Regions from separate parts of the Homo sapiens genome. Here regions 2, 3 and 4 are each linked to region 1. Evidence: fine-mapped expression QTL. A gene starts in region 1. Each other region holds a variant in brackets. All regions are shown on one strand. Distances are from middle to middle. Region 1 holds the start of TRIB2 (tribbles pseudokinase 2). Region 2 has its middle 110 kb from the start of TRIB2. Region 3 has its middle 37 kb from the start of TRIB2. Region 4 holds the start of MIR3681HG (MIR3681 host gene).

The links. PIP is the estimated chance that this variant, and not a neighbour inherited with it, causes the effect.
Region 2: its variant is fine-mapped to the expression of TRIB2 in whole blood (TOPMed, PIP 0.94).
Region 3: its variant is fine-mapped to the expression of TRIB2 in whole blood (TOPMed, PIP 0.95).
Region 4: its variant is fine-mapped to the expression of TRIB2 in whole blood (TOPMed, PIP above 0.99).

Annotation. Positions count from the first base shown.
Region 1 is chr2:12,713,908-12,719,059 of GRCh38, reverse strand. It overlaps TRIB2 (tribbles pseudokinase 2), which reads right to left and starts at 2,124. Exons shown (of 3, transcript NM_021643.4): 1 at 483-2,124. The coding sequence starts at 752. LOC124905974 (a long non-coding RNA gene) reads left to right here and starts at 2,302. Exons shown (of 2, transcript XR_007086222.1): 1 at 2,302-5,152. RefSeq lists enhancers at 1-295, 1,657-1,726, 1,575-2,214 and silencers at 2,167-2,226, 2,317-2,536.
Region 2 is chr2:12,606,702-12,611,853 of GRCh38, reverse strand. No RefSeq gene overlaps it. Among named protein-coding and RNA genes, the nearest start is that of TRIB2, 110 kb to the left of the region's middle. RefSeq lists a silencer at 4,445-4,645. The variant G/C (reference allele first, on the strand shown) is at 2,977.
Region 3 is chr2:12,677,315-12,682,466 of GRCh38, reverse strand. No RefSeq gene overlaps it. Among named protein-coding and RNA genes, the nearest start is that of TRIB2, 37 kb to the left of the region's middle. The variant A/G (reference allele first, on the strand shown) is at 2,707.
Region 4 is chr2:12,004,060-12,009,211 of GRCh38, reverse strand. MIR3681HG (MIR3681 host gene) reads right to left here and starts at 2,096. Exons shown (of 6, transcript NR_110196.1): 1 at 1,985-2,096; 2 at 1,369-1,465. RefSeq lists enhancers at 534-583, 2,015-2,309, 2,818-2,867. The variant C/G (reference allele first, on the strand shown) is at 3,122.

The sequences.
Region 1 (5,152 bases):
TTGTGTGTCTGTTTTAAAGGGCACCTTCGGAACAAAGGTTTAACACCTGCCCGCTGCTAAGAACAATGGCTGCGAAAAGAACGAAGTCATCAGTCTTAAAATTACCGGGGGATTCCCTAATCCTTGTTGGAAGGGGAGGGGGCTAGACACAGGAAGAAATCCCCCCCGGGCAGCGGGACCCGGCCTCGCGCAGAGAGCTCCTGGAGCCTTCGGTGCACGCGTGTCCGTGGCCCCCGCGCAGTCCCGCCGCCCTCTCCTCCCCGGGCTCTCCCCGAAACGCCCCCACTGCCGCCCGCCCCATTGTCTGAAACGGTCTAAAAACTTCGCAACTTACCGAACCTGAGCAAATAAATAAATAAACCCATTTAATAAGGCCACGGTAATTATCCCGCGAATCTCCCTCTCCCAGACTCGAGGGCCTGGCGCCCTCCCGCTCCCTCGGGCCCCTTCCAAAGACAAAAAGCAACCCACTGGCCCTTTACCTTGCACACCAGCTCCTCTCCGCTGTGCAGATGCACGGCACGAAAAACGTGGTCTCCCTCCAGAGGTTCCAACAATAAGTATTTCCCGATACAAGAAACGCAATGCGACAAGTTCGGAGTCTCGGGCGGGCTCGGGGAGCCGAGGTTCGGGCTGAAACTCTGGCTGGGCTCCGCGGACCTTATAGACGACAACTCTTCGAAATCCTGGGTTTTGTTCCGCGATCTCCCATATCTCGCTATTGTGATGGGGGTAGACCTGTGTATGTTCATGAGTGTGAGGATCGCACACGACAAACAAAAAAAAACCCGCTGGAGAGATGAGTCGCTGGCGAGTGCGGCTGCAGGCGCCTCGGTGCCACTGATTTTAAAAGGGAGCGAGAGGGGAGGGGACAGAAGAGGGGCTGCGTGGAGAAAGAGTTAGAAGCCCCCAAATGGGCGCCGCCGGATACCTCGTCTGCTCCGAGCCCGGCTCCCGGGGGTCCTCGGTCGGCAGGCAACTCGGGTCTTTTTGTTACCCCAAAGCAGTCGGCGATGTGCAGAATCGCCGCACTTTTAGTTACTCTGTGTGTGTGTCCCCGGCGTGGATCTGGATGAGTACCCGGGCTGCTAAGGTGCGGAGCTGCAGCGCCAGGGCTCCCGACGCGACCCCCAGGCCGGCTTCCGAATCGCAGACGGGGCGGAGGAGCCCGCGGTAGTTTGTGCAGTCTTCGGGGAGCTCACGGCGGCGACTCAGTCCCAACGCGTTAGAAGCCAAACAAAAAGAGAAAGGAAACAAGCACGGGTCTACCGGCTGGCGACGCACGGCAGCCAGAATCCGCGCTGCACCCCCTTTTTTTGGTGGAAAGGGTGGGGGGCGTGTAAGGGGGGGGTGCGGGAGAGGGCAGTTACCTACGTTTTAACTGTAGATGGCGTCTGAGGCTTTTCCAAGATCGCGAGCTCTCCAAAAATTAAACAAACAAACAAAAAAAAGAAAAATTGCAAGGGAGCATTTAACTTGGTGCGGTCAGCGCTGCCAACAAAAGATTGCAAAAGCTGGGCACAGAGTTGCGGCGCGGGCTGGGCGCAGGTACCGCGACAAAGCCCTGGGCTCGGCCCGCCGCGCGGAGGTCAGCACAGGCTCATGCTGTCGCCGCTCGCTCGCGCCCCAGGTCTTCCTCCGAATGCAGCCAGACGTGCAGGAGAGAACGAGGACAGATCGGCGGTCTCCGATTTCGCCGGCACGAGCTTGCGGGGGTCCTGCGGGCGCTGCAAGGGGAGCTGCGTCCCTGGCCCTTCCAACGCGCGGCGTTCCTTTGCCCCTTTCCCGCTGGAGAACTGGATCTCGTCCTGGAATAATTTGCAATCACCCCGTCTCCCCCTACCCCGAGACCAAATTGCCCGGTGGGGTTTGTTTTGGAGAAAATTGACGGCTTGTCTCCTCCTTCTTTGATTTCTTGCTTGCCCCCCCCAGAGAAAAGAGGGGACCGTGTATTTAAAAATTAAAGGGGACGGCCGACGGTGCCCGAGGCCAATCCCCGCGCTCAGCACGCCCGCATCCCCCGGCGAGGCGGTATTAATAGTTACTTACGTGGCCGGGGATCTCGGAGCGAGCGGGGCCGTGAGTGCGCGTGTGCGCGCGCGCGCCTCGCTCGCGCTCGGTCTCCCCATTCAATGTCACCGACACATTTCCACGGAGCCTCCGCCCCCCCCCCGCCGCCCCCGCGACTGGCTCAGCCCAGAGCCGGCCCCGCCCCGCCCCCGCCCGGGCCCCCCTCATTGCGCCGGGCGCCCATCAATCAGCCCCGCCGCTGCCAGTCCTCGGGCGGCTCCCCGCGCCGCTGCCATTGCAGCTCCGTGCCGGGGGCGCCAGCACCGGCCTCGCAGCTCCCTCGCCCGGCCGGGGAGGTAAACAAAGTGAAATATCCTTCCGCGGCCCGGGGCCCCGGGCGCAGCACCCTGGGTGTCGGCTGCGAGCCGGCTGCGAGCCCAGCTGCGGGCGGCTGGGCCGGGGTTACCAGCAGCGACTCCCGAGCCGTTCCCCACACGCTGCTCCCGCAGCGCCCGCTCCAGCTCTTCGTAGCTCGTTCATGTTCCTGGCGCTTTTCCCCAGAAAGCCAGGCACGCTCTGAGCATTGGGCCCCCAGGCTCAGATGTGGCCCTGAATGAGGAGCTCTGTTTTGGAAGAATGCGCTTTCATCGGTATTGCTGCCTGGAGTTTCGAGAATTCGTTTCATGGTATCTCTCCGACATCCTCCTCTCCATTTAAAAGGAAATCCATTGCTTCCTTTTAGTTGGTGTCACCGCTTGCCCCCGATCCCCACATCCTGGGCTTGTATTTCTAGTGTTTTCAGCAGAAGAGGAACTGAAGGCATCTTTTGATTCAGGTCAAATTTAATCACTAATTCTTCCCTTCCCAGTGCATTGCCTGGAGGGCCTTGGAGGCCAAGCTAGACAAAACTTTGCACCCACACCTCCAGGGAGCGCTGTTGGGTCCTATCCAGGGTGCTGGGCGTCCTGAGTCCTCTTCTGTTAGCCAGGTGAAGGCTGCAGTTTCACGCCCCACTCCACCCCCCATTTCGCCACCCCCCCCGAATTATTCGTAACTTCCTTGGGAGATTCCAGTCCGCGGGCTTGGACAGGAACACCGGAAGCAAGGGGCTTGAACTCAGGCAGAGGCTTCAAACGCCAGCCTTGATCTAAGATATCCTGGTGAATGAGAAGCGATCTAGTAGAGGACAAACTTAAAAAAAAAAATCCCAAGGAACTGAGAAAGGGGAGTTGGGACGACTCCTGGAGCCCTCTGAGCTTTTGCATGCGTGTAGTATATTTTCCACTGGAGGAGGGGACTAAATTATTGTCCACTGTAGGACACTTTCAGTAAAAGAAGGGAGCTATTTATAATTATGTCCACTTGGGACAACAGTCACTCTAATGATCAGGAGTCCTGGGAATGTGGCCAGAGATGGAGAGGACATTGACTATAAAGCTTCCACCCAGCAGCACAGAGTTAAAAGGAAGGTTAAGAAGTGGACCCGTGCCTTCCAGCACCTCTCACCATCCTACTCCCCACAAACCTGCCTAGGATTCAGTCCCAGATCCCAGCAGAATAGATCTATTTCCCTAGGCGATCACCAGGACCACTGACCGAGCAGGGTCCCCTAATCCAGTCTTACCCCAGGAAGACACTTGGCCTGTGTTAGGAACAGTCTCGAAGCAACCCCTGCTGTTGAGTCAGAAAGAGAGGTGCCTAGCCTCCTCTATGCAGTGGCCAAGAGAGCTTTGTAATAATTAGGGGTTGGGACACCTGTGTGCTAGCCCTGGCTGGGTCTCTGATTTCAAATGGAAATTGGGTGAAGACCTTGTTTTTTCTCCCTAGATCCCTGTTTCTTCATCTGTAAGATGAGAAGCATAATACCCGCCCTGCTCACCTCATGTGGTTGCTTTAGAATTATATTTTCAATTCCAGGAAATCTATGAAGGCTTACTATAAGCCGGGCTCTGTGCTGAGTGTTAGGGATCCAATATGAGTAAGATCTGGTCTCTGCCACCCAAGAGCGCAGGGTCTAGCCCGGCAGAAAGACTGGGAAACAAATAATGTCATTGTGTAACAATGTGGCAATTAGAATATCAAGGCCTCAAGGGAGCATGGAGGAGGGAATGACTTTTCCTGAACGTCAGGGAGTTTTCCCAGAAAATGTGATTTTTATTACCTTGAACTAATCCAGAGCAAATATTTATTGAAACCTACTATGTGCCAGACACTGGATATGAAGATACAATGATTTGAAAAATATATTTCCTGTCTTCATGGACCTTGAAATAGCCCTATGAGTCATAAAATAAAATGAATAAGAGATTGTTGTTGGCATTTCAGGCAGAGGGAAGGAATGTGGAAAAGCAAGGGAGTGGGATGTTCTGAAATTTCTAGTAATGCACCATGTTCCAGCAGTGGCAGCTGGGAGCAGTGGCCAGGCATGTGGCTGGCAAAGTGGACTGATTGGGATTAGATCGGGAAGGGGTTGATAGACACAACTAGCAACAGTGGTCTTCCTAGTAGAGGAGATGGCGAAGCACGGCTGACATTGGGAAGTGACACGGTCGTTTGTGGGATTTAGATCCTGCTGCAGATCACAGGGAGTAGATACTACTGGGCTTCCAAGGAAAGAGAGAGCAGAAATAGTATAAACCTCTAGTGATGCTGTACAGGATTAATAGTGAATTTATGACTTGTGATGAAATTACACAGTGGCCATTCTCCTGCCTGTCCTTGAAGGCCAAATTCATGGCTTAGTGCTATGTTTGTTGATTAAATTCACGGAGCTATTGCAGTGCAGGATAAATTAGATAATTTGTATCAAGTGCCTTAAATATTTGTTATGTCTGTTAACTCGGTAATTCTTAGCAAATTGGAAAAGAAAAAAGCATGTAGTAGGAAGATCTGGGTGGGGATCTTTATTCATTCACTTTTTAGCCATATGACTTTGGTCAAGTTTGGAATATTTTAATCTATAAAGTGAAATTACAATAGAAATTTTGTCTTAATGTATAGCAATTATGGAAGATGTGTATAAAGCATCTGGCACAATGTCTTGCCTATAATAAAAACTCAAGGCCGGGTGTGGTGGCTCACACCTGTAATCCCAGCACTTTGGGAGGCCAAAGCGAGCCGATCACGAGGTCAAGAGATCGAG
Region 2 (5,152 bases), 110 kb after region 1:
TCATTACAGTGTCATTTCTTAAAAAGACTATTCTTTCTCTACTGAACTGCTCTTGCATGCTGAAAATCCATTATCCAAATATATAGGGGTCAATTTCTGAAGTCCCTATTCTGTTCTATTGATCTGTCTTTCTGTATATTTGCACTAATACCACACTGTCTGGATAACTGCATTTTTATAATAAGTATTAAATTCAGGGAGTGGTAGTCTTTCAAATTTATTCTGCTTTTAAAATTTGTTTTGGCAATTATTGGTCCTTTGCAGTTTTATATGAATTTTGAAATCAATATGTTGATTACTACTAAAATATTTTTGGGGGTTTTGATTGGATTGCTTTGAATCTACAGGGTAATTTGGGAACAAATTTATGTTTTAATAATATTGAGTCTTCTGACCTATGAACAAGGTGTATCTCTCTACTTATTTAGATCCTCTTTATCTGTGCAATGTTTTAATTTTCAGTATAGAGGACTTTCATATATTTTATAATTATCATTATGAAACTATTTTTGTCATTTCTAGCAATATCATTTTCTCTAAAATCTACTTTGGTATTAACATAGCCAAAACAGCTTTATTTTGAGGAGTGTTAACATGATATATCTTCTTCTATCCTTTCACATTTAACTTATTTATGTTTTTACATTTAAACTGTATTTTCTTAAAGGCAGCATATATCTTACTATGTTTTTTTCATAAAATATGACAATTTCTGTCTTTCAGTGCAGTTTTCTAAACTATTTAAATTTAAGGCACTTATTTCTATAGTTAGGTTCAAGTCTAGCATCTTGCTATTTAAAAAAAATTCTGTTTTTTTGTTCCCATTTTCTTCTTTCTCTGCTTTTAGTTTGGATTAATTGTGCATTTTTGGGGATTCAATTTTATCTCTTCTGCCTGCTTAGCTATAACTCATTGTTTTGTTATTTTAGTGGCTGCTTTAAGATTTAACTTATCACATTTGACCTAAAGATAATATTTACTACTTCACATGTGGTATAAGAACCTTAACAAAATGTTTTCATTTCTCCTGTCTGAGACTTTATATATTTTACTTACGCATGTTATTATGTATACTATTATTTTTATTAACAATCAATTATCTTGTAAAGAGATTTAAATGCTAAAAAGTTTATACTTCCCCATGTAGTAGTCATTTTTAGGCCACTGATTCCTCTGTCTAGACTTATATTTGCATGTGACATTATTTTCCTTCTGTCCAAAAGACTCCTTTTAACATTTTTAGTGTATGTGTCTGCTGGTGATGAGGCTTTCTACTCATTTATTTCTGAAAGCATTTTGTTTCCTTTTTGTCTTTTGAAAGATATTTTTGCTGAGTATAGAATTTATGGTGGAAAATATTTTTCCTATCAGTAATTTAAAGATGTTGTTGGCTCCATTGTCTTCTTGCTTGTATTATTTCTGATAAGAAATATGCTTTCATTTTTTTCTTTGTTCCTGTGTATAAAATGCAACTTATTTTTTTCTGGCTGTTTTAAGGTTTTTCTCTTAATGGATGGTTTTGCACAATTTGGTGACAATATGCATCAGTGTAGTTTTCTTCACATTTCCTAGATTTATAGGTTTGTAATTTCATCAATTTTGAAAATGTTTTGGCAAATTTGTCTTTGTATATCTTTTCTGTTCCCTCTGCTTTTTTTTCCCCCTTCTACTCAAGGGACTTCAAACTATATATTGAGCTGCTTAAAGTAGTCCTATACGTCACTAACATTCTTTTTTTATTTTAATTTTTTAAATTAGACTTCTTTCAGTGGTTCATTTTATTTTTTATATTGCTATTTCTTTAAATTTACTAATCCTTTCTTCCAAATTTTTTAGTCTGACATTAATCTTATCCAAAGTACTTTCATATCACACATTATCATGTTCCTTCTACAAGTTCGATTTGCTTTTTTTTTTTTTTTTTGAGACGGAGATCTTGCTCTGTCCTCAGGCTGGAGTGCAGTGGTGCGATCTGGGCTCACTGCAACCTCCGCCCCCCTTGTTGAAGTTTCTGTCTCGTAATAACTGTGTTCTTTTTTGGGGGGGTGGGGGGCGGGGGACGGAGTCTCGCTCTGTTGCCCAGGCTGGAGTGCAGTGGCGCGATCTCGGCTCGCCGCAAGCTCCGCCTCCCGGGTTCATGCCATTCTCCTGCCTCAGCCTCTCGAGTAGCTGGGACTACAGGTGCGCGCCACCAGGCCCGGCTAACTTTTTTGTATTTTAGTAGAGACGGGGTTTCACGATGTTGGCCAGGATGGTCTCGATCTCCTGACCTTGTGATCCACCCACCTCGGCCGACCAAAGTGCTGGGATTACAGGCGTGAGCCACTGCGCCTGGCCAACTTGCCTTTTTTTAAAAATAATCTTCTATGTCTTTACTTAAGCCTATGAATATATGGACTGCATGTATAATGACTGCTTGAATGTCATTGTTTGCTAATTCTAACATATGTGTCAGTTCTGGATCAGAATCTTTGATTTGATACCCAATATTATAAATTTTACCTTGTTGAATGCTGGGTTTTTTAAAAAATCATAATATTCTTGAGATTTATGCTAGGATGCCATTTTTACTTGGGAAAAGTTTGCCCCTTTAGAGTCTTGCTTTTATCATTTGTTAGGAAGACCCAGAGCATTTTAGAGCTAATTACTTTCCATTATTGAAGCAAGATTTTCCTGAGTATTCTACGCAATGTCCAGGGAATAATGAGATTCTTCAATCTGGTTGGTGGAAACAGGCAGTATTTCCAGACCTGTATGAGTGCTGAGTACTCTTTCTTTTCATCTTTTGGATGGTTCTTGCTCCAGCCTTGGTGCATGGCTTGGTCAGTATTCTGCTGAAAATGTAAGAGGGTCCCAGCCTTGGTGCATGGCTTGGTCAGTATTCTGCTGAAAATGTAAGAGGGTCCCTTGCATTTCTCCAGGATTCTTTCTATATATGATTTTCTTCTCTTCAGTACTTTGTTCCACAAACTCTAG[G/C]TTCCTTGGTATCCCTGAAATCTCAGCTTTGTTTCTTCATCCATGGAGTCCACCCGGTTCTTCCTTGGTGTTCTCCCTCTGCATCATGGTCTGCAGACTCTCTCAAGGTAGTAAGAGAATCGCAGGATTTATTTCATTTGTTTTCTGTTTTGCATTGATCACTGTCTTTCATTGCCCAATGTTTAGGGTCTTGAAAATCCTTTCTTTCACATTTTCTTTCACATTTTTTGTTCATTTAATTTTTTATTTTCAGGTAGCATTGTAAACCCAGTATTGTTTTTCCATCTTGTCAACATGTGAAAGATAAATTGTATTACTTTTGATCCACACAATTATATCTCCAATATTATAATAAAAGCCAAAAATCAAATATAATTCAATATATATTTGTTTTTCATGCAACTCTTCAGAATTACATACATATGGGTGCATTTGGGATGATAATTACCAGGGAGGTCTAGTTCGGTTTTCCTTTTTGATTTTATCTGGGTCCAGCTAAAATTCCATTACGATTGTTCTGAGGACAAAGCATTATTGATCTGTGGCATGTAAGAATTAATTTTGTATTAAATTAAGTTCTAACAATCATTAAATAGGTGACACTTTTGTGGTACCCTGAGTCACTGGGGAAATGCAGCACTTTGGAGATACGCAACCTGGGAAGTCACTATGACTCAGAGACCTCAGTCTCTCACAGGCCTGCTGAAGAGCCACATTCAAAGAAGGTGCTCAACAAATATTGAGTGAACTAATCAGTGAAGATCATATGACCGTAAAGTGATGAGACTGGTTATTTGGTATGCATATGCAAATGGTGAAGGAGAAGCCTCCTGTGGAGGAAAAAAACAGATCTTGGGCTCAGAGAGAATTAGGATCTAATTGTAGTTCCTTATTTAACAGGTAAGTGAAAAACAAGTTTAAAAAATCCAAGCTTTATTGTTGTCATCTTTAAAATGAGATAACATTGTCTATCTCACAATATTATTAAAAAGATAATATCGGATGTGTATAAGATACACCCAACATAGAGTATGGTAAACATTAGGCATCCAATTAATGCAAGTTGTCGCTTCTATAGACCACCCCCCTGTGGAAGGTAAAACCTTTGCACTGTCATTGCTCACAAATGTGTAAGAGACTGATCAAAAGTAGGGAGGAAAAGAGTTGCAATTTCTTCACTGATGTTAAATCTTTGAGAATGAATTTGATTTTATAAAGAGCCAAACATCATTCAAAACAAAAGCAAGTAAATAAGTGAAGTGACTTATCAATGGGGATAAAAATGAATAAACACAAAAGGATGTGACGATAAAATCATGTCACACAAATTCAAGTGATTCATAAGCAAGCCTTATATCATTTCCCGATTTGGAAACTATAAGTGTTCCTAGGATTACTACACCATAGGAATAAGTTTTCCTCCCTCTTGAAGGAAGATCCTGGAAATAAACACACTCATGTGGATATATACCTCCTGCTCTGTTTTTTAGAAAGGAAAAAAGACATGAAACTATCTCATTTTGTTACTATCTGATGACCCCTTTTACAACCTTGTTTCAGTCTATGATGCCTTTTTATATATGTTGGTTTGTAATCAGACGAAACAGAAATTCAGATAAGCTTTAAGTGACTTGCCTATGATCATACATGGGTAACTCTCAGCAGTGGATTTTGAACCTAAATTGCGCTTTTCCCACCATGCTACCTATCCTTTTTTTGTACCCTACTCTAAAAATGTTTTATTTTCAGAACAAATTAATGCTAGTCAATCAACTGATAAGTGAAAATATTTAGGGAAGCAAGTAATACTATAAATTATTACTATTATCATTATTAATTTTTATTCCCAATGTTTCAAGATGGAGATAAACTTAATCTGCATGCATTCTTAAAGAGTGACTTCAGTTCTGTGTAGCTGGGTCTTGGCAGTTGGGAAAACACCCACAGTGACTTTAGTGAGATTTTGAATCATTTTATCTCTGGAGTCTCCCGTGGCTTTGTAGGTTCAGACAGAATGCAGTGAGAACTGCCTTTCCCACCCTCTTTCTTTAGCAAATTCAGACTCAGAGTGCGGGGATGCTCCAGCTGCATCCAATTAAACTCCCCCAAACAGGAAGGAAAAGGAGCTGACTACAGTTGCTGCAGAAACATTGAACAGTCTCATTTCCACAGACGG
Region 3 (5,152 bases), 37 kb after region 1:
CCTGGAGTCTGGAGTCTGTGTGATGTGTTTCTGTTGTTGTTATTTTCTTCTGACTCTTCCGGTTTTCCTCCATGCCTTCCTTAAATTACTCCCAGGCCCTGCCTCGTGTCTTATGGGTCCCTCCCTGAGAAGTATATTGGCTGGGGAAAAGCTCTGAGGGAGCAGAGCATGCATTAGACACAGAAGGGTTGGCTTCTCCCATCTTCTTGTCCTTTGACTTTTGCATATGTGGCCCTCCCCATCTCATCAGCTGCTAGCCTGGAGCTCCGGAGGGTGGAGTCTCCTCCATGCCTTGCAGGGTGCTGCGTGCAGCAGGTGCTCAAGGCTGCGGAGTCAGGATTTGAAGCTGAGCTCCAGTATGAGACACTGGGGAAGGTCTTAATTCCCAAATTCCATTTTCCCATCAGAATAATGGAATGGGGTTTTCAAATATCAACTCTGCACAGTTTTTATGGGAAGAACCCATTGTTATTGCAGTCCATGAGGCATGTGCCTGGAGCAATGTAAGTTTTGATTTTTCCTTTTTTTTAATACATGATTCCTGCCTGGATTACTGAAGCAGCCTCCTAAGGGCCTCCCTGCTTTGACTCTCAGCTCCCACTGTGTCTCTCAACATACCAGCCAGAGTGATCTTTTCACACCGCAAGTTGGGATCTCCATGCCGCATCTTGCTCCCAGCCTCACCATGGCACGCGTTCCACCTGGGATGAACACTAAACTCATTCCAGAAGCCTTCAAAGCTCTGTGTGGTCCAGTTTTTTCCATTTTGACTCTTCCCTTTGTGTCTTGTTTACTCTTCCCCAATGTGGCTCACCCCTGCCTTTGGGCCTTCCCATTTACTGTCTAGAGACTCTGCCCCACTGCCCATATGGTGAACCCCTCATGACCTGCAAGCCCTGAGGCCTCCTCTGACACCTCCATTAAAATTGCAGCTCTGCCAGGTGTGATGGCTCACACCTGTAATCCCAGCACTTTGGGAGGCCGAGGTGGGTGGATCACGAGGACAAGAGATTGAGACCATCCTGGCCAACATGGTGAAACCCCATCTCTACTAAAAATACAAAAATTAGCTGGGCGTGGTGGTGCATGCCTGTAGTCCCAGCTACTCGGGAGGCTGAGGCAGGAGAATAGCTTGAACTCGGGAGGCGGAGGTTGCAGTGAGCTGAGCTCTCGCCATTGCGGTCTAGCCTGGCGACAGAGCAAGACTCAAAAGAAAAAAAAAAAAAGAAAGAAAATTTCAGCAAACCCCCTACACCTTGCCCAATACCCTGGCATCTCTAATCCGGCTTCCTTCATTGGTGAAATGTAGCCTTCCTTATCTGCCCTAGCATGTGGCATCTTCTCACATCCTAGATCATTCTCACAGGGCTAGGTATGATTCCCTAGAATCCATTTCAGCTGGTGAGAGACCGAGTGGTGGTTCTACTCTTCCCAGCAGGTGGCAGGGCCCTCTTGGGGCTTCTGTGTCTTCATCACCCCTGTGAAAGGGCTGGTCTCTATGAGCTTCAACTTCCCTTTGGAGTTTAAATTCCATTGTGCTGCCCATACACACATTTTGAGAAGCCATTTGCTCTACAACTGGGGAGAACATGTATTTCTTTTCCCACATCTGTCCCTATTGTCAGGCTGGAAGGTGAGAGTCTAAATCCACAAGTGAAGGAATGCAACATGGGAAGTGTCTCAAAGAACATCTCCAGAGGGACAGGATGCTCAGTGGAGTGGGCTGACCTCTCCCCGCTGGTGCCCAGGGCTCTCTCTTCACTGCGGTTCCTAATGTGGCTGCTTCATTGACTGTGTGGAGGGAGAACAGGATGCTGAGATGACCAGAGGGCGAGTCAAACTTGCAAACCTCTAAAGGAACGTCCAAGCTCCCCAGCCATTCATCCATTCATCTGCCTATTCAATGATTTGTTCATTCTTTCCTCCAGATTATAGTCCCTTAGACACCAAACGTCTTTAAAGGTATCCCTGGTATTTCTTATGGCTCCTTGATATGGTTTTGCTGTGTCCCCACCCAAATCTCATCTTGAATTTCCACATGTTGTGAGAGGGACCCAGTGGGAGGTAACTGAATCATGGGTGCAAGTCTTTCTCATGCTGTTCTCATGATAGTGAATAAGTCTCATGAGATCTGATGGTAATATAAGGGGGAGTTTCCCTGCTCAAGCTCTCTCTTTGCCTGCTGCCATCCATGTAAGATGTGACTTGCTTCTCCTTGTGTTCTGCCATGATTGTGAGGCCTCCTCAGCCATATGGAGCTGTGAGTCCAATTAAACCTCTTTCTTTTGTAAATTTCCCAGTCTCAAATATGTCTTTATCAGCAGCATGAAAACGGACTAATACACTCCTCTTAAACCCTTAGCTATGTAATTTTTGTTGTCCCCTCTCTGAGCCACCATTTATGCCGTTTGCTTAACTTCTGTGCACACCTCCATGCTTTTATCTGTCACGGTCTTCACCACTCTTGTCAGTGCCTGTGGCAGAGCCCAGCCAGGCTCACTAATAACAAGGAGCTCCCTCCATTGACCAGCCGTCCTTGCCCTGGGCTAGTTGTGCGAATAACCTGGCCTAAGGACCCTGGATGAGAATGGCATGACATGCATCCCTTCCAGATGAGGTGACCTCCCAACACACTCTGCTCTCCATCTGCCAGCTGATGACAGTAGCTCAGCTCCTGCCAGAAAATGGTGGGAATGGTGCAGGCAC[A/G]TAATAGAAACAGCAGAGGTCCCTTGGCAACCACCTAGAGGACAGCTACTTTGTGGAGTGCTGCCCAAGGGAGTCATACACCTGTGTGGTGAGTGAGGAACAAGCTTTGGCCACAGAAGCCACTGTCAATTTTGTGGTTATTTGTAAACAGGTCATTCATCCTGCAAATACATTCATCTATAAGTACACGTGCTGGGTATCATGCTAAGCACAGGGTTTATAATGATGAATAAGACAAGCCTAGAACTTGCCCACTGGGAGCCCGTAGCTTAGCAGGACAGACAGATTTGACTCAGCTCTCGTGGGATGTCCGCAAGGTTCTGAAGAGGAATTATGCAGAGAGAGAATGGGAGCTCAGACTGTGGTGTCGAAGGTGAGGTACCAGTGCGACTGGAGCCAGCCTGAGGTTCCAGATGGATTCCCTGAGCAAGTAACATCTGAGCTAAGATCTGAAGGATGACGGCACTGGAGAGTGGAAGGGGGGAAGCTTTCAGGATCAGGGGCTGTGTGTACGGTGCCCAGGCTGAGTGGGGGAACTGGGGACACTGAAGGAAGGCCGATAGGGTCACCTGCGTGTGCAGGAAATTTAGTACAGTGCCTTGCTCATAATAGGGATTAATAAATGTTTGCCTAATATATCACTACATGAATGAACGTACCATTTAACTAAAAATTGAAAAAGATCAAAGGAAACAGAAGCAAGAAAATGAATAAAAATTTGGGGGTAAAGGGTGGCTTCTCAAATAAAAAAAATCACAAATCTATATCTATACAAAAAGAGGTATATGAGGAGTGTCTCTATTTAGTATCTCCCTCAATCCCAACCCCATTGCGGTTAGAGGGAGGCAATGCAAAAGGCTTTCCTAATCTATTTTTTATGACTTGAAGCTATCAGGGGCCTAGGCTGTATTTCCACTCCAGTTAGAGGGATCCTCTAGAGCCTGAGTCTCTCTCTCTGTAGGCACTGGGAAGCAAAATCTGATTCACAAGCAGAGGAGAGGAGAGTTTGCTTTTCACATATTCTACAGAATTGAAAAAAATTGATTGGTGGATCTTTATGAAAAATCTGGGCAGGTGTTTGAGAGAAGATACAGCAATCTATTTCTAGTCTCCCACACTGCCACAATGGAGTAACCCCCTGTGCTATTTGGTGATTAATGATCACATAGTTTATATTTTATAACATAAACCCTCAGAGTTTCCTTTATGTAATGACAATAGACTATCCACAGCTACCTTTGTGGAACCTAAAAATGTCATTGCTTGGGGCCAGATGTAATGTGCAATAAATAATTTAACAAGAAAGATATCTTCATTCTATTTACAGTAAGCTAGAATTCATCTCCGTGGTCAATGTGAAACACCACTTAGTGGATAGGCAAATTCCAACTATAACTCCAGTGTAACCCGATTCATACTGAAAGGCCTCCAACAATTCCAAAGATATTTTTATATACATCTTGGAAGTTCTTGGGCCCTCAACATTAGCATATGTCTTCTTTTTTCTCCTGGCTTTATTTTTTTTACTCCAAATTAATTCAGCCCTTGATATGCATGCCTATTTGTTTGTATCTTTGAATGCATGTCTCACCTTCTAAAATGCTTTGTATAGAAGCTGTGGCATCTTATTCCCTAGCTGTGATGTTAACGTTATATGACTAAAGAGCTTGCAGATTCCACGTGCTCACCATAATAATTCAAATAGGAAGTAAATATATGGAAACCAAGCTTCAGAGGGCTCTAGACATTCTCAAGGGGACCTAATTGGTGCTCTCTTACGGTCAAAATATTTAATAAGCACCTGTTACATTCAAGATGTTGTAGTTACAATGGGCACTGGGTTATGATGCTGGCAAAGTCAGAGGTTGCCCTTGACCTCATCAAATTTACATTGCACTGGGAAAGACAGCCATTGGCTGCAAGTGATTTTGTAACAGCTGTCGCTGGGATTGCAGAGGTGCACAAGGTAACTGCAAACATGGAGTCAAGTGGCCTGGTGAGTACTGGAGGCCAGGGAAAGCCTCTCTGGGGAAGTGGCATGCAAAGTTGGAGTTAATTTAGTCCATTTTGAGTAAAGGGACTAGCAAGTGCAAAGGCCCTGCAGCAGGACCCGCTTGAGCACTGAAAGAAGATCTGCATTAAGTGGCAGAGGTGTTCTACAAATCCATGCCTTTTGATGTCAACTGTCATACTCTTTCCCTGTTATAATGAAGGGATCTGGGAGCATTTGCCCTGGTTGTGGCCTGAGAAGATGACCTCTACCTTTCAGAAAAAAAGGTTTTTTCACTCTTGAGCCACAGACTACTTTGGAGCATGACAGACAACTCATAACAATTCTTGGAAAACACACCCAGGGCCTCCTTAATTAATGGCAAATGACAGTAGTGTCTATTTCTTGGAATGGAAGGGAAGCAATAATGAGAAAAATCCACTGAGTAATATTAAC
Region 4 (5,152 bases), 710 kb after region 1:
TTGAGGTTCAAATTTCAACTGATCATCTTTGAAATGCAGATAATAGGATCAACAGATTCAGAAATATTATAAAAATATTCAAAATATCAACCGCTTGGAACACAGCAGATATTCAAATGTTTTAAGTATAGTGTTTATTATCCAGATAGAGGAGTATATTCGTTTTCTAGTGTTGCCACAAGCACCATAGACTGGTTGGATTAAACCAAAAGAAAATGTATTTTCTTACAATTCTGGAGGCTACAAGTCCACCATCAAAGTGTCAGCACGGCCGGTTTCTTCTGAGGCCTTTCTGTGGCTTGCAGATGGTAAATATACCACAAATTTTCTCTGAATGAGTCAACATGAATGAGGAAGCAGAAAGTGATATCTTTCTTTTATGAAATGAATTATGTCCCCAAAATTCATATGTCAAAGCCTTAACCCCCAATGTGACTGTGTTTGGAGACAGGGCCTTCACAGAGTTAATGAAGGTTATTAGTGTGGGGTCCTAGTCTGCTAGGACTGATGTCCTTATAAGAAGAGATTTGGGTACAGACATGCATGCCCACAAAGACAAGACCATGGGAAGACACAGCAATAAGATGGCTGTCTACAAACCAAGCAGGAACCAGCCCTGCCAGAAATTGGAAAGATGCAATCCTCGATCTTGGATTTTTAGCCAAAAATAAATTTCTGTTGTTGAATCCACCCCGTCTATAGTATTTTGTTATGGCCACCCTAACAAACGAATATACTTCCTTTCTAAGGAAATGGGTCAAAAACAAAATTTAAAAAAAAAAAAGGAAATCTAGATTTTTCACCTATTTGGTGACTTTAGGTTGTGTTCTCTACCATATGTCAAGAAGTTAAGAAGGAAAAAGTAAAAGTAGTTAAATGTGCAGCCTGGGCAACATGGCAAGACCCTATCTCTACAAAAAATTAAAAAACTAGCCAGGTGTGGTGGCATGCACCTGTCATCACAGCTACTCAGGAGACTGAAGTGGGAGAATCAGGAGCCCGGGAGGTCATGGCTGCAGCGAGCCATGTTTGTGCCATTGCATTCCAGCCTCAGCAACAGAGCAAGACCCTGTCTCAAAAAAAAAAAAAAAAAAGGAGTCCAATGTGTAGCCAATACGTTTGTATGTGGCTGTGTGTAGAGATGTGTGCTTAAAGCTAAAGGAGTTACTAAGATATCCGATATTCATCCTTTTTATATTTTCTAAAAAATATTCATTGAGAAGACTAGCCATGTGCTAGCCACCATGCTTATAATGTATTGTTTACTTTAATCTTGTCCTTTTCCTTATAATCCTACCAGTGTTAGGAATTCATAGCCCCATTTCCACTCTAGAAAAAAATAAAAGACTCACACTTTATGTGACTTACCCAAGGTCAGGGAACTGGCATGGGACAGAGCACAGTTTCCAACACAGGCCTCTCCAGCTTCAAAGACTGCATACACATCCAGCACATGTCCTTGCCTCTGTAATATAAGAAGAATTGCAAATGTTTCACACCACAGTATACCCAGATCTGTTCAAAACACATGTTAACTCATCTACGGCTCTGTGCCTAGCCCTTTAAGGTAGGTACTATTATTTTTTATAATCCCCATTTTACAGATGAAAAAATGTGTTGAGGAACTCAGCCTGGGTCCCACACTTCATCTTATTAAATTAACAAACAGCATGTGGCAGAGCTGATCTCTGCACCCAGCTCAAGGACAGTGTGATCATCACCTGCATGTGTTTGGCTTCCAAATGAGGGAAATGAACCCAATGGCCCTTTGCACCCTTTCCACCCCTGGGATTTTATTGCTCTGACTTCAACTGATCAACAAAACAGACAAGACTAAATGTTAACATGTTTTTAAACACATAGAGACTCTTCTCTTAGAGGGGAGGGAAATTAACCCTCCTTTAACACAAAATTTGACCTCAATTAACCAAAAATTTTTGTTCTGTGTTTTTACGGAGACCATTGTCATAGCTGAGAAACCCACCAATAGCTAAGCATATTTAGCCACAGAAACTCCTACAGTAACTATGGCTCTTGTGAGCCAGGCCTCATCATGGCTGTGTCAATTTCCCTCTGCACTGAGTGAGGGGTCCCGGAACACAAAGGCAGAGGCCGCCTGGTTCCAACCTTCGATTACGTCATCCTGATGGAATGTGGACACCATTGTGAGGACTTTCTGCTTAAGCCTTGTTTTATTTAAGTTTCTAACATTCTTGGAGACTTAAATCTCATCTACAGTTGCTTGGAATCCAGGCTTCAGTTGGATTATTGAAGGGATGCAGTAAACTTATCCTCCTAAAAGCTGAACTCAGCAAATGGTTAAGCCAAAGCTATCCTGCCCCAAGGCTCAAAGCAAATCTTTCAGCTCATTACATTTAAAAGATTGCTAGCAGTCAGCAGCCTTTAGATTTATGTAACACTAAGTTATACACAGTAAAAGCATGTGCTAGTTACATAACAATGTTCACATGAATGGTTAAAATGGGACAGGTAAATCAGATGCAGAAAACCAGGACAAAAAGGCTCCCAGCAGCTTTAAAATATATTGTTTAAATTCATAGCAAGGAGATAATTTTTTTCCTTTTCTCTCCAACAATGACAGACATTTACCGAGTGCTCACAAAAGGCCAGGCATTTCTGCAACACGGGTCAGTAGAAGGAGCAAAGCCTTTGGAGTGAGGTTCAAGTGTAATTGGTATGTGACACTTGGCAAGTTTCTCCAGCCTCAGTTTACCCATCCACAAAATGGAGCTAGCCATGCCTACCTTATAGAATCAATGTGAGAATTAAATGAATCATGTTGCCAAGTGTCTGACATAAAATATATGCTCAATAAAGACCAGTTTCTTAGTCTGCTGCTCTTAGCTGATTTGGTCTAATACCCTGCAAGCCTGGGAATGTGGTATTATTATAATCCCCGTTTACCAGGTAAGGAAACTGGAGGTCTCTGCCAGGGTGACGTTGCTGTCATGGGGCAGAGGGGCTTTAATACATAACTCATTAGAGGCATATCTCAATTTTGCAACTCACAAACCTGCAGTTTGTGCAGGTCTTTCAGCTTCTCTGCTTTTCCTCTGGCTGCCTGCCATTTGGCACTTTCCCTGCTAATTAGCACCTCGAC[C/G]ACAGTACAGCAGGGGAAATCCAAAAGGGTGAGCTTCGGTTAGTAGCTGAATCATGTGGTTTAAGAGCTCTAGGGGAGAGACTTTTCTTTTTTTAAGTTTGGTAAAGAAAGAGATGGCATCTAAGCAGTGACACGAATATTTTTAATTATATTTGGAATTCAGTTCTCTATTATCGTGGCCTCCCACTAATAGGTAATTGAGAATGGATCATTATATTTAAGAAGCTGTCTGATCTTCAAGGTGATTAAACTTTATTTATATGCTGAGACTTTAAGTGAGAATGTGTCTCAAAATCATATCAGAATTCCTATTCATCTTAGCTATTACCACCAAATTGCACTTCTCTGTATTTATGATATGAAATTCACATGTCAAAGTTCTAGCCCCTAATGTGACTGTATTTGAAGACAGAGCCTTTACAGGCTTAGTTAAGGTTATAAGTGTGGGGTCCTAGTCCAATAGGGCTGGTGTCCTTACAAGAAGAGGACATTTGGCTGGAGACATGCATGCCTCTGAGACAAGACCATGTGAAGACACAGCAATAAGATGGCCATCTACAAACCAAGGAAGTAGGTCTCAGGAAAAACCAGCCCTGCTGGCACCTTGATCTTGGACTGTCAGCCGCCTTTCTGCAAGAAAATAAATTTCTGTTGTTGCAGCCGCCCAGTCAGTGGTATTTTGTTATGGCAGCCCTAGCAAAGTAATATACTTCCTTTCTAAGGAAATTAGTCAAAAAAAAAGGAAACCTCTCTGTCCCTTCATTTTCTAACCTGTAAAATCAGGAAAATATTAGTTCCTCATTCACAAGGGCATTGTGAGGACAAAATACATTATCATTTAGTATTCAGAATAGTACCAGAAATATTCATAAGCACTTTAAAAGTGTTTTATTATTGTCAATATCGTTACCACTAATAGCACTACCATCACGTCTACCACCACCGAGAAACCTAGATTGTAACATACAAAAGACATGGAGCATTCTGGGACAATGGACGGAAAATTACGTGGACAGAATCATTTGCAATTATTGCTCCCCAGGTCCAGACTCACCTGGGCATCCCTTCCCAGCCCAGGTCCCAGGTGCCTGGCTTCCATCCTGACCCTACGGGACAGTGGCAAGTTACTCACTACGAATCCACATCAGGCTTCACCAGGCCTCAATGAGGGCCAGGCTGACTGCCAACCCCAGGGAGTTTGTTCTAGAAGAATTTACCTATAAAACATGAGTAAGGTCCATCTCATGAGCCCTCATTTCCTTCTCTAAGGTTTACATCAAGGACTGAAACATTCGCTCAGTGACAAACCCCTTCCCTATCCACCAGCCTACGGTCTCATCCCAAATTCCCCAAAGTATAATCCCAAAGCAGTCTGACCTGGATGTTTTTCTCAAAGTCTCTGCTATTCAGTCCTATCATGGACACCACATTAAATACAGTTTCCAAGTTTTATACAATTAAAAGATAACACTTTAATAATGAGAAGTCGACAGTGGTTATGAGTTTTGTTAATATTGCATTTAAGATTCTGCAGGAATCTTAAATTTACCACAGAAACCAAATAGACTTGTCATCCAGAAATTATAACTCTGGCGGTGTTTTTGTAACTATGCGCAAGGCTGCATGCAGTGGGATGTTCCAACTCTTTTTTTTTTTTTTTTTTTTTTTTTGAGACAGAGTCTCACTCTGTCACCCAGGCTGGAGTGCAGTGGCCCGATCTTGGCTCACTGCAACCTCCGCTTTCCAGGTTCAAGTGATTCTCCTGCCTCGGCCTCCCAAGTAGCTGAGATTACAGGCATGTGCTACCATGCCCGGCTAATTTTTTTGTATTTTTAGTAGAGTTGAGGATTCACCACATTGGCCAAGCTGGTCTCAAACTCCTGACCTCAAATGATCCGCCTGCCTCGGCCTCCCAAAGTGCTGGGATTACAAGTGTGAGCCACTGTGCCCAGCCCATTCCAACTCTTTCTAAGAAACAGTTATCAAAAATCTGTTTGTTTCTTCTGAAATATAAAAACAGCAATTTGCTAT